Homo sapiens: one gene and its partner. The protein of the gene in region 2 interacts with the protein of the main gene of each other region in a pairwise test. Each region holds a gene or a part of one and is shown on either strand. Other genes may lie near its edges.

Region 1 (3,797 bases), on a different chromosome or scaffold from region 2:
GTTTGGAGTTACAACTGTTTATTTAGTCCTTATTCTCACAGGGGGCGGGAGCTGCGCGGGAATGGGGGGCTGCAGGCAGCGATTTCGAAGCAAACACATGGGAGGGGGGCATGCGACTTTGTTTCCGGGAGCGGAGCTCCCCAGAGCCCGTGTGTGTCACTGCCAGTCTCCCGGGACCAAGGCGGAGCTCACAACAGGTGGGGAGGGGGGCTCGTCGAGGGCCAAAAAGAAGAAGGAATCTAAGTTTCCGAGCGCGACGTTGTCTGAAAAGGAGGGAGGCGGGAGGCGGGGGCGAGGGAAGGCGGAGGCAGCAAATGACCGCGACCCCGCGGCAACTGGCAAACTCCTCGGCTCCCGGCGCCGCCGCCACCGCCGTGGTCCCCACTCGAAGCGCACGCCGCCTCGGCTCGCTGGCTCCAGGGAGTCGTCTCGGCGGGACAGGAATAGAGCGCAGGGAGCTCGGGAGGAAGGCTGCGCGCAAGCGAGGGACGGAGAGCCATCGGCCGCCAGGACAGGGCCGGAGGGACGAGGCGACACGCGCGCGACGCAGGACAAATCGGAGCTTGGGAAATCTCCCCGTCCCCCAAGCTTCAGAGGGGGGTAAAATCAGAAAATGTGTGTGATGGTGGGAGAGAGATCCGGGCGCGGCGACTCCTCGCAGCGCATCCGGCTCCCGCACCCACCCGTGGATCTGGCCACGGCTGTTGCGGACTCGTCTCGGGAAAGCGGAGGCCGAGCGCGCGTAGGGGTGCGTGTCTGGCTGGGGGTGCGCAGGTGCGTGTTTGAATTTTCCGGGCTCCGAGGGGGTGGCGGGAGAGCTTCCTCGCCGCTGACTCTCGGGGTAACGCGCGCGTGGCAGCGGGGAAGTTCCCCAGTGCGGGGCCCAGGGCCAGGCACCACAGTCAGTTTGCTGGGGCCCGCGGGGCAGCTCAAGGGCACCGAGGGGGCACACACCCGCGGGGAAAGAAGGGGAAAAGTTTGCTCCAAGTCTAAACTTTGGGCCTAGGAGGCGCCCGGCGCGCGCCCCCTCCCGCCGCGGCCAGGACCCGGGACCCCGCACCGGCCCCGCGCCCGGGCGGCCACCGGACGCCAACGCCGGACATCGAAAGTTGCGCCAGGCGGCCTGGGCTTATTGATTTCTCTCCCCTAGGCGATCGTGGAGAGCGCAGAGAGAGGCGTGAAGGGGCCTACGGGCAGGCGATCTCGCCTCCTCACAGTCGCCACCGCCCCCGCCCCCATTTGACTTATGCAAATAAACCCAAAGGGTGCGGGCGCCGCCGGAGCTCCCTCCACCCGCGCGCCGGCCCGCAGCCCCCACCCATCCCAGAGCTGGGCCTCGACCCGGGGGGGAGAGGAAGAGAGGGGAGGGCTGGGGGAGATGCACGTGGAGCCTGGAGGTGGAAAGTAGTTGTTTTTTTTTTTCCATTTTTTTTCTCTTTTTCTTTCTTTCTTTTTTTTTTTTTGTGCTGGTTGTTGTTGTTGTTTAAAGTGGCGGAAACAAGACAGGAGGCGGCTTGGGAAAAAGTGGAGCAGAAATGGAAAAATACAAACTCACCCGCTGCAAATGGTCTCTCGGTGCAAACTAAGGTGTTTTCGGGCCTTTCCCCGCGCGCGCCCACTCCCGCCCGCGCGCGCACCCCGCGCACACACTCACTCGCGCACACACGCGCGCACACACGCACTCCCGGGCGAGGGCCGGGCCGCCGCGAGTACAGCGTGCAACCGCCACACAATAAATAACAATAGATTCCTCCGCTCCGGACTAGCTTCCCGGAGCCCAGCCAGCGCCGGTGGCGGCGGCGGCGGCGGCAGAGGCGCGGGCAGCACCGGCCCGGGGGCGCACCCCGGCCCGACCCTCTACCTCCCGCAGGGGTCCCCTCTCCGCTTCACGCACCCCGCTGGGCACTCCAGCGGCCCCCCGAGCGGGAGCGGCTCCCTCTTTGCCGTTCGCCGGGGCGCTGGCGCCCACCCCCCTCCTCCCTCCCCCCTCCCCCCCGACATCCCGGAACAAATAAATAAATAAGGCGCGCGAGAGAGGCCAACACGTCGCGGAGGGAGATGTTGTTATTTTTTGCTGTTGTGCGTCCCTGACGTCACATCCACCTGCTGGGTAAACAACCGGGCTCCCAGAAAAAAAAAATCGCAATTGCCAAAGAATGGGGGGGGGGGTTGGGGGGAGGGATCCAGGGAGGGGGAAGTGAGGGGCGTCCAGGCAGGATTGGAAAGAGGAGAGGGAGGCAGAGCCCCGCGGACCAGAGAGAGGAAGGGAACGCCAGAGCAGTCCCTGGCAACAGAGGGATCTGGCAGGAAAGACCTGGAAAATAAGGGGCAGGGGGGCGGAGGGGGAGATTCCTCAGGAGATGGGAAATGGGGGGCCCATTCAGACAGCGGAAAAAACGAGAAGGGAGAGTGTTAACTAGGGACGAAGATGGGAATGCGATGGCTATTTGCTTGGATTCTGAGCTAAAAATATGAAAGGGAGGGGAGAGGACAGGCTAGAATGTGAGTTTCCTCCAGTTAAAAGTGAAAGTGTTTTGCCATCAGTGACAGTTGAAGGAGAGCGGGGTGGGAGGTGGTGTTTTCAACCCCCTTTCTCCCTCTCTCCCGTCCTCCCTCGGTCTCTCCTCTTTCTTTCTGCACTTTGTCCAATGAAAGAAGGCGAGTTCGGGAGGTGAAAGTTCAGCAGAAGGACAAACCCCTGTTTGCAAGGAAACAGAAACCCCGCCAGCCAGCGAGGGGTTTTCTCCCCTGTTTCTCGGAATCAGGAGAGTGTGAATGTGGGACGAGCTTCTGCCCCCTTGTCAGAGCCACTGCAGGAATGTGCAATCGAGTCCACTTTGGGGGAAGGTGGCTGCATCAGGAACTGTGTTCTTGCCACGACTCCTCTTAGGAAAACGCCTGGGGGCTAGCATGTCAGTCCGTTGTTTAACACAAATTACCTGCTCTCCCAGTGATCAGTCACGTGCAAAAAGCTTTGTCCAATTCTTTGAAAAGGTGAGATTTTTTTTTTTCTTTTTGCGGTTTTTGAAGTTTGGTTGAATTTAGAAATTCGAAGGAATAAACTAAGAGCCTGAATTAAATGTTTTGAAATATACATACATAAAACAAAAGACACTAGTATTTCTTTCACTTTTATCAATACGCATAGAGAAGGAAGCAGAGTATGTGTTTCCAAAACGTGACTTGGAAAGCTGTAAGACCTCTATGTCTTGTTGTTGTTGTTGTTGTTGTTGTTAACAGAAGTAAATTTTTTCAGACCCACCACCACAGAAGTGGCCAGACTCCCAAACCAGCATTTCCAGCTACTGGCTGGCTGGTGTACACCAGGCCAATTCTTTATGAGAATATATTAAAAGTCACCCCTGTGGATTCCTACAAAGTACTTCCCCTTGCGGGGAGGGGAGAGGCTTACTGTCCCTTTGGTCTTGAGACCAGCACAGTTGTAGATAATATCCTGAAAAGGTTATTATTAAATTCTTTCGCGTAATGCCCCTTTACAAATATTGTTAAACATTAATTTACAGAAGAACTTAAATCTTAATTTCAAGGGTGGCATAAGACTATCGCTTTGAAATTGTATCTTTCGCAAGTTAAAAAAAAAAAATAACAAAGCCATTCGCTGATGCTACAGAATAAAAGAAAGGGAGGCTGCTAAGGTAATTTCAGCCTGGTAGAATTCACATTGCATGCATGCTGCATAAAGTTCCATGCTATCCAGATAAGACTATTCACTGAATCTTTTAGACTAGAATCTAGACCAATAAAATGCATTTTAGTTTGTATGGAATGTCCTAGCT
Region 2 (3,600 bases):
TAATGTTAAGTAACAAAACCCAAAAATTTAGTTGTCAATTCTTACACTAGTAAGTCCAGAGATGGTATCCAGGTGACTACGGCAGAGAGTAATATACACATGTATGGCTATAAAGTAAAAAGAATTTGTCTCACTGTATTATAGTCACATTTTACAAACATTATTCTGTCTGCAACTTCTAACTGTGCATCCCAATGTTACTTAGAATAGCTATGTAAGTATTTTTCTTTTTTTTTTTTTATTATACTTTAAGTTTTAGGGTACATGTGCACATTGTGCAGGTTAGTTACATATGTATACATGTGCCATGCTGGTGCGCTGCACCCACTAACTTAAGTATTTTTCTTATCCAACCTAAATGCATGGTTAGAGACAAATAAGTTTAATGCAAGAGTTTTAACAGATCTTTCCCAACATTTGCATATGAAGTTGCAACAATTAGTTATATTCCTAGCAAATTTATCCTGATTACAATTTAACATTAACTTGTAATATAAAAAAACATTTTTATGGATAAATTTTTAAAAACTCTTTAGACTAACTTATAAATTCACAAAAACTAATCTGACCTTGAAATTCACTAGGAACACTTAGAGAGAAAAAAAAAAATCTGGAACCCTCTGAAAAAGAGAGAAAAACCTAATCCTTGGCAGCCTACTGACATTAAAGAGAACGGTCTAAATTAAGAATAAACAAAAACAAGATGATAACTTATACTAATAAAACATAAACGTGCAAAAGTTTTTAAAAACCCAACCTACTGGCTGGGCATGGTGGCTCACGCCTGAAATCCCAACACTTTGGGAGGCCAAGGTGGGAAGATCGCTTGAGTCCAGCAGTTTGAGAGCAGTGTGGACAACAAAGTGGGTCCCTGTCTCTACAAAAAACCGACCTATTAAACATGCATTATCTATTTCTGTGAATAATCACTTTATTTTTTTTTTTATTTTTGAGACGGTCTCTCACTCTATTGCCCAGGCTGGAGTGCAGTGGTGCAATCTTGGCTAACTGCAACCTCCACCTCCCAGTTTCAGGTGATTCTCCTACCTCAGCCTCCTGAGTAGCTGGCATGACGGGTGCCTACCACCATGCCTGACTAATCTTTGTATTTTAGTAGAGACAGGGTTTCACCACATTGGCCAGGCTGGTCTCGAACTCTTGACCTCAGGTGATCCACCCGCCTCAGTCTCCCAAAGCTAAGATTACAGGCGTGAGCCACTGAGCCCGGCCAACCAGTTTACTCTTATGTCATTTCTTGAAATAGCAAACATGAATATTTACAGAACATTAATCAAATCAGTAAAACTAAAACCCAACAGCTATACCCTTCTTTCAAATTAAAGAGCATTGATTTTTCTTAAAATTTATTACTTCTAATTTTCAATGGACTGTTATAAAGTTAAAAATAAAACAGGACTAAGAACAAATCCCAAAGTCATACTAATCAAGTGATTTTGCTAACCTCTCTGCACATCTTTTTAAACTCTTAAAAAGAGTTTAAAAAATGTTTACGAAAATTCATTCTGCAGCTCCACAGAAGTGCTTCAAGTATTGTGTAAAGCTTGATCCAAAAAAAATTAATATATCTTAAATATGCACAAAAACAACAGATATGTTCAAATGTGTTATAATCCAAATTTTAACACATTTTAAAATGACCAACTCATCTTGTTGCCAAGCATTTGGTGATGACCATAAAGACCCTTTTCATATGTCTATTTTAGTAAGAGACATCAAAGACTACGAAGTGATTTGTTTAAAAAACCAGGTTGTAAATATAAAAATGTGCAACTCCAACTACATAAAAAAAAAAATTCTTGCTGGTATACAACCAAAATAAAATATGAAAATAAGCTGCAACTGTTACTCAGATTGCTGCACTCAAATTCATGGATTTATCCAACAGCAATTTTTCTCATTGACAACTTTGTAAGTGTTATATATTGGAGACCTGCATTAGAACTTTTTGATCTGAATACTTCAAAAGTCCTGTTCACTTCTATGCTTTGACAGGAATATAAGAAAATTAACCAACTGAAGTGTTTTTAAAGGAGCAAAACGCAGGGAGTCAAAGCAATTTATTTCTTCCCTAAATTGAAATGCCCTACATAAAATACTATTTGTGAATCCAATGAGAGAAAACACTTGAGTTTGGGCTCTCCTTGCATTCGCTAAAAAAATCACATGCAGGCCGGCACGGTGGCTCACGCCTGTAATCTCAGCACTCTGGAAGGTTGAGGCGGGCAGATCACCGGAGCTCAGGAGTTCGAGACCAGTCTGGCCAACATGGTGAAACCTTGTCTCTACTAAAAATCCCCATCTCTACTAAAAATACAAAACTAGCCAGGTGTAGTGGCACGTGCCTGTAGTCCCAGCTACTTGGGAAGCTGAGGCAGGAGAATGCTTGAACCCTGGAGGCGGAGGCTGCAGTGAGCAGACATCACGCCACTGCACTCCAGCCTGGATGACAGAGACTCTGTCTCAAAAAAAAAAAAAAAAAAATGGCTGGGCAAGGTGGCTTACGCCTGTAATCTCAGCACTTTGGGAGGCTGAGGCAGGCGAATAACTTGAGGCCAGGAGTTCGAGATCAGCCTGACCAACATGGTGAAATCCTGTTTCTACTAAAAATACAAAATTGGTCAGGCACAGTGGCGCATGCCTGTAATCCCAACTACTTGGGAGGCTGAGGCAGGAGAATCACTTGAACCCAGGAGGCAGAGGTTGCAGTGAGCCAAGATCACATCACTGCACTCCAGCCTGGGCAACAAGAGTGAAACTCCATCTCAAAAAAAAAAAAAAAAAAAAAAAAAATATATATATATATATATATCCCATGCAATTTGAATAGCCCAGTCTTCTCATAATCAACGACATTTATTATGATATATATTAATAATATTGTCAAATGGTATAGAGACATATTAATGCTAGAGAGACAGGAAATATAACAATTCTAATTATACCATGCCTTTTGACACCAGGGTTTCAGCATTTCATACCCATTCTTCCCATCACATTAATACCAGAGCATCTGACTGAAGGTAAAGATTCACTTTGTCTCAAATGCATTAATATTAAATTTGTACACTTCTGTACCTCAAACAAGGGCAAAATACAATAAAACTGAAAAAATAAAAACTGTTGTTCAAAGATAATATAAGCTCTATATCCACACAGAAGTTAAAAATGTTCATATGTCAGCATATATGTCATACTTGAGTGATTCAGGATTGTCTCACCACATGAGATACAAAAGCCCAGCCCATGGAAAAGTAGGGACCACTTTATATCTTCCTCCCAACAATTTAAAAGGATAGGTGGGAGGGAACAGATATTAGAAAGGATGCACTAAAGAAATATGCCATAAATATGCAAAGTATTTTTAACTGTCAAAATACTTTGTAAATGGATCTAAAAGCATTTACATATGTTCCTACTGTATAATAAAAGTACTTATTTAGTCAAGGCCAATTAAAAATCATCAGGTTATCTTCATCTTACTGTCTAGCACATAGCAGCATCACTAGTTGCTGTTTTTAAGTAAAGAAATGTTCAACTCTAAGCTAAATCGTTAAGCAAAACAAGAACCATTCTGGTATT

What was found.
Region 1: the proteins of ZMYM2 (region 2) and FOXP1 come close enough for resonance energy transfer, tested with the Homo sapiens proteins (2 studies listed by BioGRID).

What each region holds. Positions count from the first base shown.
Region 1 is NC_000003.12:71,582,016-71,585,812, forward strand, and holds the start of FOXP1 (forkhead box protein P1), read right to left. Parts: upstream 1,714-3,797; 5' UTR 1,556-1,713; intron 1-1,555. UniProt on the Homo sapiens protein: Transcriptional repressor. Can act with CTBP1 to synergistically repress transcription but CTPBP1 is not essential. Plays an important role in the specification and differentiation of lung epithelium.
Region 2 is NC_000013.11:19,961,727-19,965,326, reverse strand, and holds part of ZMYM2 (zinc finger MYM-type protein 2), read right to left. Parts: intron 108-3,600; coding exon of another isoform or gene 46-107; intron 1-45. UniProt on the Homo sapiens protein: Involved in the negative regulation of transcription.